2 separate regions of the Homo sapiens genome follow, and region 2 is linked to region 1. Evidence: fine-mapped expression QTL. A gene starts in region 1. The other region holds a variant in brackets. All regions are shown on one strand. Distances are from middle to middle.

Evidence for each region. PIP is the estimated chance that this variant, and not a neighbour inherited with it, causes the effect.
Region 2: its variant is the best candidate, but not a certain one, in a credible set for the expression of THUMPD1 in unexposed skin (GTEx, PIP 0.85).

The regions. Positions count from the first base shown.
Region 1 is chr16:20,739,617-20,744,995 of GRCh38, forward strand. It overlaps THUMPD1 (THUMP domain 1 NAT10 acetyltransferase adaptor), which reads right to left and starts at 2,202. Exons shown (of 4, transcript NM_017736.5): 1 at 1,893-2,202. The coding sequence starts at 2,123. It also overlaps a transcript of ACSM3 not described here. RefSeq lists enhancers at 1,388-1,477, 1,508-1,647, 1,948-1,997, 2,008-2,277.
Region 2 is chr16:20,044,767-20,050,145 of GRCh38, forward strand. All of the region lies in intron 1 of GPR139 (G protein-coupled receptor 139), which reads right to left. Among named protein-coding and RNA genes, the nearest start is that of GPR139, 26 kb to the right of the region's middle. The variant A/G (reference allele first, on the strand shown) is at 2,146.

The DNA.
Region 1 (5,379 bases):
TCGAGACCAGCCTAGCCAACATGGTGAAACCTTGTCTCTACTAAAAATACAAAAATTAGCCCGATGTGGTGGCAGACGCCTGTAATCCCAGCTACTCAGGAGGCTGAGGCAGGAGAATCGCTTGAACCCAGAAGGCAGATATTGCAGTGAGCTGAGATTGCACCACTGCACTCCAGCCTGGGTGACAGAGCAAGACTCTGTCTCAAAAAAATTAAAAAAAAAAAAAAAATGTGGAGGAAGAGGGAATTCCCGCAGACTATAGAATGTAAAATTTGAAAATGTTTTCAAAAGCATCCTGACAGTTTGAGGCAGAGAGAAACGTGCTGACCAGATCAATCATTTTAGGGTGGACCTTAACACGTTGACCAGGTATCTGTGTGCCTCACACGACACTGTCCTTTTGGTGAGATTAGACCAAATACCTGTGGAATTAAAAACCCTTACTCTTGTTCTATTAAGGAACAAGGCACAGAAATACATTGTTCAATAATTTTGGCCAAGCATGGTGGCTCATGCCTGTAATCCCAGTACTTTAGGGGGCAGAGGTGGGCGGATCCCTTGAGCCTAGGAATTTGACACCAGCCTGGACAACATGGCCTGAGAACCCGTCTCTACAAAAAATACAAAAAATTAGTCGGGCATGGTGGCACATGCCTGCAGTCCCTGCTACTCGGGGACTGAGGCAGGAGGACTGCTTCAGCCCCGGAGGTGGAAGTTGCAGTGAGCAAGAGCATGCCACTGTACTCCAACCTCCACCTTGGGTGACAGAGCAAGACCGCTTCCAAAAAAAGAATTTGCTTAAAGTACAGGAGTAGACAGGATATGTGCTTGTTGCCCAGCTCTCTGCCCCCTAGTGCCCAACGAAATTGCCAGTCAGGCACAATAATAATTGTATACATTTACAGAAACTTTATTACATACCAGTATGTATTTTATGTACATAAGCAACTCACTAGCCAGTCTTAAAGTATTCTCTTTTTTATCTAGCTCAGCAGCATCAAATAATGTGCCCATGTCCGAGTCCCCAAGCTAGTAGAGGATGAGCCGTGAATTTAAATTCCCTCTGTATTACCCTTCTTCATTTAATCCCTCAGTGTGCGTGTGTGTATTGGTCCAGATTCTAAGCCAGTAATATGATTTCCAAACACTAAGACTTTAGGTGATATTGGTAAAAGTTTTTACGTTCTAAAATGTATTTTAAGTGCAGTAACTAGCATTAGTAGTAAACCTATTATTTCAGAAATATTATTGCTTCAGGTAAACACATTATTACTCCAACTTCACGAGGCTGTCATGAAAAATGTGTTTCTGAAAGAGCTTCAGCACACCGCCTGGCCCTCAATGAGCAATCCTTAAGTGGGAGGTAGGCCGGGCTCAGTGGCTCGCGCCTGTAATCTCAGCACCTTGAGAGGCAGAGACGGGAGGATCGCTTGAGTGTAGGGTTTAGGACTACCCTGGGCCAAACAGTGAGACCCCTTATCTACAATTTACAAAACTTAGCCGAGAGTGGTGGCGCGCACTCATAGTCCCAGCTACTCTGGAGGCTGAGACAGGAGAAGTCGAGGCTTCCCTGAGCTATCATCACGCCACTGCACTCCAGCCTCGGCAACAGAGCGAGACCCTGTCTCACAAAAATAAAAATAAAAGTAATGGGAGCTACCGTGGTTACTGATGGCAAGAAAAGGTGCAAGCACTTCAAGCACAAAACCGATAGCACCGAAGTCTGCGAGCGTCTCAGGACTAGGGACGGAAACGCCGGCGAGGCCACGCCCCTACAGCCGTCACGCCGACGACCCGAGGCGCGCATGCCCATACCAGCAGCCATCCCTCCACCCTTCCCTCCTCCCGCAAGGCCTGGCAGCCGGCCCGCCCGCCCACCCCGGGACCGGTACCTTTTCTGGCCCATACATGTCGTCGCCGTATTCGTTGAGGAGGCTGTAGGCCTCCTCCACGCACTTGCGCTCGTTCATATTGCAGGTGATGAGGATGCCCTGTAGCCCGGGCTCTAGCTGACGGGGCCCGCCAGCGTCGCAGCGCCGAGCGCGCTTGGCCAGCACATACTGAGCCTTGCCTTTGCGCTTCCCGCCGCCAGGCTGAGTAGTCTGCTGGGCAGGGGCCGCCATGGTGTGCGCAAACTGAGAGGAAAGAGAAACGTTTCTCCGCTGCTGTTGGCGTCCTCGTCTATCGCCGGCGCGAACTGGTGACGTCGGATATGAGCGACGGCCTCCCCTAGCCGGCCTCGAAGCCTCATTCCGTGCTGCGCCAGGTCCTAAGGCCGGTCTGCAATCGTGAAAGGGGTGGAGTGATACCCGCCCAAGCCCCGCCTCCTGCCCCGCCTCCCGACTGCAACCTGAATCCAGTAGAGGCAGCATAGCAGCCATTCTGGAAGTGGTGTCGGTGGCTCCTCAAGCCCTTGAAGCTGGCTCCAGCCATATAGCTTCTTCCACCCAACCTTGGTACCTGTTCCTCCAGCCTTCCCTATAATTCTGCCAGCTACTGTGGAGGAAAAGTTAAATATTAAATTTGAACTCAATTGAACGTGGACACAATGGTCAAGTCCCGTAACAGGTTGCATGAGCCCCTTGAGGCATTCATTCATCCAGCACTGTTACAGATAACTCTGTACCTGTACTTGAGTTATTGAAAAACAGACAATCACAGAAACAAGTTGACCTTTATGTGTTCCTTGAGCCCAGTCGAGAAGGGCCCTCGTGACTGGGCCTCATGCCAATCAACGCATTACAAAAAGAGCCAGGGTCGGCCGGGCACGGTGGCTCACGCCTGTAATCCCAGCACTTTGGGAGGCCAAGGCAGGCAGATCACGAGGTCAGGAGATGGAGACCATCCTGACCAACATCTCTACTAAAATGCAAAAAATTAGCCAGGCGTGGTGGCGCGCACCTGTAGTCCCAACTACTCGGGAGGCTGAGGCAGGGGAATCACTCGAACTCGGGAAGCGGCGGTTGCAGTAAGCCGAGATCGTGCCATTGCACTCCAGCCTGGCAACAAAGCGAGGCTCTGTCTCAAAAAAAAAAAAAAAATGAGCCAGGGTCCCAGGCCACACGGAAGCTTCTTGAGACCCCTCCTCCTCTGTGCACGGACAAGTGGCTGACTCTGGAGCCCAGGCTGTTGCTTCCCGGTCTGGTGATGAATCCAACATAGTCTGGTGCGTGTAAATATATATATATATATATATATTTTTTTTTTTTCCCTTCTCCCCTTCCCATTGCAATTTGCTTACTATATCATTTGCTTATTATATCTGCATTGCCATTTACGTGGGATAAAGGTTGTTTACCCCCAAAGGTATTGTATGTTTGTCTATTTTTTTTTTTTTTTTTTGAGATGGAGTCTCGCTCTGTCGCCCAGGCTGGAGTGCAGTGGTGCGATCTGGGCTCACTGCAAGCTCCGCCTCCCAGGTTCACCCCATTCTCCTGCCTCCCTCCCGAGTAGCTGGGACTACAGGCGCCCGCCACCACGCCCGGCTAATATTTTTTATTTTTAGTAGAGACGGGGTTTTACCGTGTCAGTCAGGATGGTCTCAATCTCCTGACCTCGTGATCCACCCGCCTCGGCCTCCCAAAGTGCTGAGATTACAGGCGTGAGCCACCGCGCCTGGCCGTATTTTGTCTTGTTTTTTCCCCTCGCGCATTTCCCACATAGAACAGTTACTCAAAAGGCTTCCAGTAAATTCCATTTCAGCCTCAATTTTCCAGGCTATGTTTCTATTTCACTTAAAACCAAGGATGTTGGCTGGTGTTGTTTCATGCTGCTTTCGTTGCGGCCTTTTATCCATAGTCTTGGCAACTTATCATGTTACTGTCTTTTTAAAAATCATTGAAGATGCCACTTTTGAAGAATGTGTTTAAAAAACAAGTGCTTCTCATACTACTCTTCAGGTACAAACCTCTTAGCAGATTTGAGTTCCTACAAAGCCCTAAAAGATGTAATCTGATATTTTGAAAGGGACACCGAATTCACAGTCAATAAACCCTAGGTTCTAACCCCAGATCTACCACTATGTCCAAAAATTTTATCATCTTATTGTTTGCTTTTACCTGTGTATTCAATACAGCATTTAATTTTCAGAATTTCTTTGGTGGACACTGCACAGCAGAGATTTCTAGAAGTCCTCAGTTGTTTGTGAAGAGCAGTGTCATGACACTGGCATTGGCCTTCCCCCAAATCTCTCTCTCTTCTGCTGGCTGGGTTTCAGTTGCCCACACTCTGCCACCTGTCCTTAGGATATCAAATATTAGCATACAGATAACAAGTTAAAATATATATATTTCAAGTCCCAAGCATATTTGAGTACTATATGGAGGCAAACTTGAAAAACAAAAACTCAGTTTTGTTAAAATATGTGAGGAGGCAGCTTTAGGCTAAATTTAAGTTTGGCCTAAATCAAGCTTGTCCAACCTGTTGGCCCACAGTCAACATGTGGCCCAGGACAGCTTTGAAATTCAACCGGCCCAACACAAATTAATAAACTTTCTTAAAACACTCTGAGGTTTTTCTGCAATTAAAAAAAATTCATCTGCTATTGTTAGCATTAGTATATTTTATGGGTGGCCCAAGAGGATTCTTCTTCCAAGGAAGCCAAAAGATTGGACATCCCTGGCCTACAGGTTTCTCCATACATAGTGAACTATAACCTAATTGGATGTGTAAACAGACTGTAATGGCTGTTGTAACAAGTAGCCAAATCTCAGCCAAGCACAGAAGCCATGCTCAACCACTCACAGGTGGCTGATTGTTCAAACCATGTTTTTTATTTTTATGTTTTTTGAGACGGAGTCTTGCTGTCGCACAGGATGGAGTGCACTGGTGCAGTCTCGGCTCACTGCAACGTCCACTTACTGGGTTCAAGCGATTCTCCTGCCTCAGCCTCCCAAGTAGCTGGGATTACCTGTGCATGCCACCACGGCCAACTAATTTTTGTATTTTTAGTAGATATGGGGTTTCACCATGTTGGCCAGGCTGATCTTGAACTCCTGACCTCAAGAGATCTGCCCACTTCGCCTCCCAAAGTGCTGGGATTACAGGCATGAGCCACTGCGCCCAGCCAAACCACGTTTAAATAAGGCAAATACTGAGTTGTAACCTATTGGGCTGTTTCTGTACCTTACTTCCATTTCCTGCACCTCACTTTTCTTTTTATGTCCATAAATCATCTCTGACCATGTGGCAGCACCAGGATGTCTCTAAACCTATTCCGGTTAGTGGGTCAGGGGCCTGCCTGATTTGAGAATCCTTCCTTGTGCAATTTAATTCTGTTAAATTTAATTTGTCTAAAGTTTTTTAACAGTTTATTGTATTTCATGGTTGCTGACTGTGCAGAGAATATCCAATGAAGTGAGAAAAATATGCAACCCTGTA
Region 2 (5,379 bases), 690 kb before region 1:
ATCCTTACTAGTAAAGTAGGTGCTATTTTCATCCCCTTACAGATAAAAAAGATTCAGGCTTGAAAGGGTTAGGAAGTTGACTAAAGTTGTATGCAATGGTATCAAATGCCTCTTCCAGCTTTCCCACTCTCCAACACCTGAGCAAGGCTGGTACATTTAACAATAACAGTTCCCTTTATTGAGCACTGACTGTATTTGGCTCACTTGCCAGAGGTTTCACTTGCACTATTTTTTTTTTTTTTTTTTTTTTTTAGACTGAGTCTTGCTCTGTCGCTCAGGCTGGAGAGCAGTGGTGCAATCGCGGCTCGCTGCAACCTCTGCCTCCCAGGGTCAAGCAATTCTCCTGCCTCAGCCTCCCGAGATGCTGGGATTACAGGCATCTGCCACCACGCTCAGCTAATTTTTATATTTTTAGTAGAGACAGGGTTTCACCATGTTGGCCAGGCTGCTCTCGAACTCCTGACCTCAGGTGATCCACCAGCCTCGGCCTCCCAAAGTGCTGGGATGACAGGTGTGAGAGATTGCGCCTGGCCACTTGCACTGAATTTTATCCTCATACGACATCATGAGATAGCTACTATTAATATCCTTATTTTAAAGACAGGAACACTGAGGTTCAGTGAGGTTAAGGAATTTGCCCAGATCAGACAGAAAGTATGTGCAAGACCCAGGATTCAAAAACAATTTGTTAGACTCTAGAGTGCATTTGATGCACTTACTTGTCCAGATACCTCCATAATCAGCTCAGGGAACTGACCATTAAATAGAAATGGGCCAGTTGTTTTCTTTTGTAACATATTATTATTAGTTTTAAACAGTGTCCATCAGCTGGCACCTATGAGGCATGAGGGAAGTTGAGAGAAGGATCAATTTCAGAGCAGTCATATGGCCTTTGAGAATGCTCGCCACTCCCAGCCCCTGGGAATCAGTGGGGATAAGGAGATCTGGGGAGCTAATCACCTCCTTGAAATCCAGGGCATACAACTGAGCTCCTGCCCATTGCCCCTTTTCAATAGCGAATGATGCTCCCCACTGGCTGATTCTCCATTGTTTTTGCCCCACGTGCTCAGCTTCTGCCAGTCCTGCCCATCTACTGATTTCCGGCTAGCGACTGCCTTGGCCAGGGGATACTTATTTGTTTTTGCTGTTTTGTGGACACAGGGGTGAAGGTTATTGGGTGCGAGGGGACCAACAGGAAATCAGAGGCTTCTGTGCTCTTCATCTGGAGTTCGCTGGGGTGTCAGAGGCTAATTGAGGCTCTGCCTTGGTTGTCGCTGTTTGATTAAACATCTTGTGCCAAGCATCATCCATCTGCTTCTCCCAATGGCTGCCAGGGGTAGGTATTTTTAGCTGTGGGCAAATAGCTTATCAATTGTGCATACAAAATGCAGCCAACACAAAGCCATCATTTTCCATTACCCTGCCTCATTCTCCTATGAAGACAAGGACAAAGGAAGAATTAAATAAGATGGGCATTCTCTTATTCATTCAACAAATGTTTACTGAGCTGCTCACTGTGAATCAGGCACTGTTCCAGACACAGAGATGCAGTGATAGACAAACACACAAGTGGTTTGCATCCACAGGGAGCTTACAGTCCATTCTGACTCAGTAGAATTCTGCTCTGCCGCCAACTAGCTCTGTGGCTTGGGTAAGTTTCTCATCTCTCTGAGACTTCTTTTATTCCCATAGCATGTGCTGAGCGTGTATTATGTGCCATTTTCTGTGCTGGGGCTGCAGGTGAGGGATGGCAGATCTATTTCACCCTCTAGTCAGGGAGGCAGACAGGGAAAGAGGCTACATGACCAAGTGGTAAGTGTAAGCCAGGAGGCCGAGACATTTTCTTGGGCACTTGGAGAGGAAGCAGCAATGAGTTCTGGGTTCTGAGTTTGTGGCGAGGGAAGGCTTCAGAGAAACATGCAGGGGGAGATTGAGGAGAACGGCACTCGAGGATCTGGGAATGGTAGGGACTGTGAGTAACACAGTGAAGAAACAGAAGCATTAAAACAAAGAAAAAAATGGCCAGGCTCAGTGGCTCACACCTACAATCCCAGCACTTTGGGAGGCTGAAGTGGGAGAATTTCTTGAGGCCAGGAGTTTGAGACCAGTCTGGGCAACATAGTGAGACCCCATATCTCTATAAAA[A/G]GTTAAAAAATCTGCTGAGTGTGGTGGTGCAAGCCTGTATTCTCAGCTACTTGGGAGGCTGAAGCAGGAGGATCACTTTAGCTCAGGAGTTAGAGGCCGCAGTGAGCTATGTTCATGCAAAACAAAAATAAAAACAAAACAAACTTTAGTCAGTGACTCAAGCTGTCTTTCTAGTCTTAAAACTTCTCTTCTTAGGGATTTTTTTTTTGTTTTTTTTGAGGTGGAGTCTCGCTTTTTCGCCCAGGCTGGAGTGCAGTGGCACCATCTCAGCTCACTGCAGGCTCCGTCTCCCAGGTTCAAGCAATTCTCCTGCCTCAGCCTCCCAAGTAGCTGGGATTACAAGCACCCACCACCATGCCTGGCTAAATTTTGTATTTTTAATAGAGATAGGGTTTCACTATGTTGGCCAGGCTGGTCTCGAACTCCTGACCTGGGAGGCCTGACCTGGCCTCCCAAAGTGCTGAGATTACAGGCGTGAGCCACTGTGCCCAGCCCTTAGGGATCATTTTTAAGGGACAGCTGACCTGCGTGTCCTGCAGCTAAGGCCATGTATAAACTGCAACCAGTAACTATTGACTTTGCATCCTCTAGCTCCTTCCTCATATTAGGTTTGCATCCAGTGTTTCCAATTTAAAAGAAGAAAAAACAATAACACGTGACATCGGGGGGAAAATGAACTAGTCTATATCAAGGTTCCAGAACATGTTTTATGGTTCATTTACATACCCAGGGTTCCATGGCAGCAGGTGTCATGAAAGCTGACCACAATTTTAATGATCACCACTTTAAGGATTTAGAAGGCATGTCCTAGCGTCATCTTAGAAAGACAGGTGGCAGAGTACAAATTCTGGAGCCAGATTGCTGGGTTTCAAATTGCCCCTGCAGCCTTCTAGCTGTGTGACCTTGAGCAATTTACTTAACCTCTCTGGGCCTTCAGTTTGCTCATCTATGAAAAGTATGCTGATATAGCACCTATCACAGGTTTTCATGAGGATTAAATAAATTAATACAGGGAAAGTGCCCGGTGCTAGGCATGCTATACACTTTTTATCATCTTTACTATTAGACAGGGTAAAAGTTTGGAAGGGCAGGAAGTGTGCCTGCTTTGCTGATTATTATTAATATATTGCCAAGCTCTTACATAGTTCCTGGCATACAGTAGGTTCTCAATAAATACCTGTTGAATGAATAAATGAATGAATAACTATGAATATAGATTAACTTAACATTGCAGAGAAGCAAAAGGCTGGTTAACAGTTTTGAATGTACTTAGGGTTTACTGCAGAAAATGAATCAGGTGATGTAATCCAGGGTAATTGGAAATTAATTTGGTGTTCAGTGTGTGGGAGAGATCTTTTTGGGACCATTAGCTGCCTGAGAAGAGGGTTTGTGCCAGAATCTTCCACATAAATCCAATTCAGTTCAACATAAATTTAGTGATGCCCAACCATGTACCAGAGCCTGGGTCAGGCTCCCAGAGTACAAGATCTGTTCCTTAGGCTCAAGGTGCTGAGAACTTGCTAAATAGATCATCCCAAGGCAGCATGAGGCATCATTTCAAAATCCCTGTTCCTTTCAATGGCACCGCGTTAGATTTTGCAAACTCAAATGATGACAGGGCCTGGGCAGGAAATATAAATGTGTGGGCATGCCATGTGGGCACTTCCGGTGAGCAGGATATCGCATGCCCCATTGCAGGAGGGTGGTCACCATTTAGCTCCACTTGGTAGTTTCCCATGAGAGAATGACAGCCAACTGTGGTCAGGTCTTCCAGTGTTTCAGGAGAGGCTTGCAAGCAACACAGTTACACACCCCATCCCAATACACAGGGTGGTCCATGGGTTGCAGGTTTGAGACCTCTGCTTTACCAGCCAACATCCAAAATCTTTGCACAACCCACAAGGTACCTCCCGCACCATCAGCTCCCTTCTGCAACCCCTGCAAATGCACCTTGCCACTTTATTTTAGGAGCCATTGCCTGAACGTGCAACACACTTTCCTACCTCCATAGCATTGCATGGGCTATTTCTTCTGCCTGAAATACCTTCCCCACCCACAATCCTTTGCCTAGAAGACTTTAGTTTTAAAGCCTTCTCTGATCTCAATGCATTGAGTTAAGCACCTCACTGGCCAGAGTATTTAACACATTTTTATGATGCTATTCTTCAAGATCTTTATCACCCATTCACTGGGAGCCCCTGGAAAGCAGGGACTGTATCTCTTTACTCTAAACCTTGAGGACTTATCACAGGGCTGTCAAAGAGTATGCACTCCATCAATGTTTGTGGGATGAAAGAGTGATGGATGGATGGATGAACGGATGGATAGATGGATGGATGGACTCCCCAAGGCTCTCTCTGTGTGACATCCATCTGTTTGCTGTCATTTTCATGGTGTTCCCTTATATGTGTGATGACTGTTCACACCCCTTTCCTCTGCTTTTTTCTCTCTAAATCCAGTGTCTATGTAGCTTCTTGGGCACTCCTTTCTGTTACCTTCTATAATAGCTATTGAATCAAATTCCCCACTTACTGACTTGGGCGTAACACTTAAGTCAGTTTTCTCATCTGTGCAATGGGGACATCTTTCCAAAGCGCTGTTAAGAAGACTGAGTAATTTAATGTGCGAAATCATCTGTACCATGCTTGGCATGGAGTAGATGCTCAGAAATAGAATTCATTTCCCTATTGAATGTGATTGACAGTTTCACTCTTAGAACACTTTTCCCTTGTTGAAATGAGGAAAGATTAAGAGCTCCGAGAGTGAAACCAGACTTCATGGGGTTGAATTCCAGGTTTGCTGATTCCTAGTCTTGTGACTGTGGCTAGGTTACTTAAACACTCCATGCCTCAATGTTCTTTATCTGTAAAGTGGGGATGGTAATGCCTATCTCATATGATTCTTGTGGGAATTAAATACATTAACACAAATAAAGTGCTTAGAAGAGCACCTGGCACATGGTGATGCTCAAATGTTATTTTGGTTGTTCACCAACCCAACCTAAGTGAGGAGCATTTTGCCTTATTCATCAAGCCCACTCAGGCCAGCTTCCTTCGCTTTCTTTCCATTGCAAATAGTGACTCCCTAATGTGTTCAGGCACCTTGCCACAGGTTGCAGATGTCAGTAAACCTGAAGAACCAGTTTCTGCCCTCCTGGAGGCTCTAGCCTGGCAGAGAAGCCAGATAGATACTCAGAGAGAAGCTCCATGAAGGAATAAGACAGTAAGCTATGGG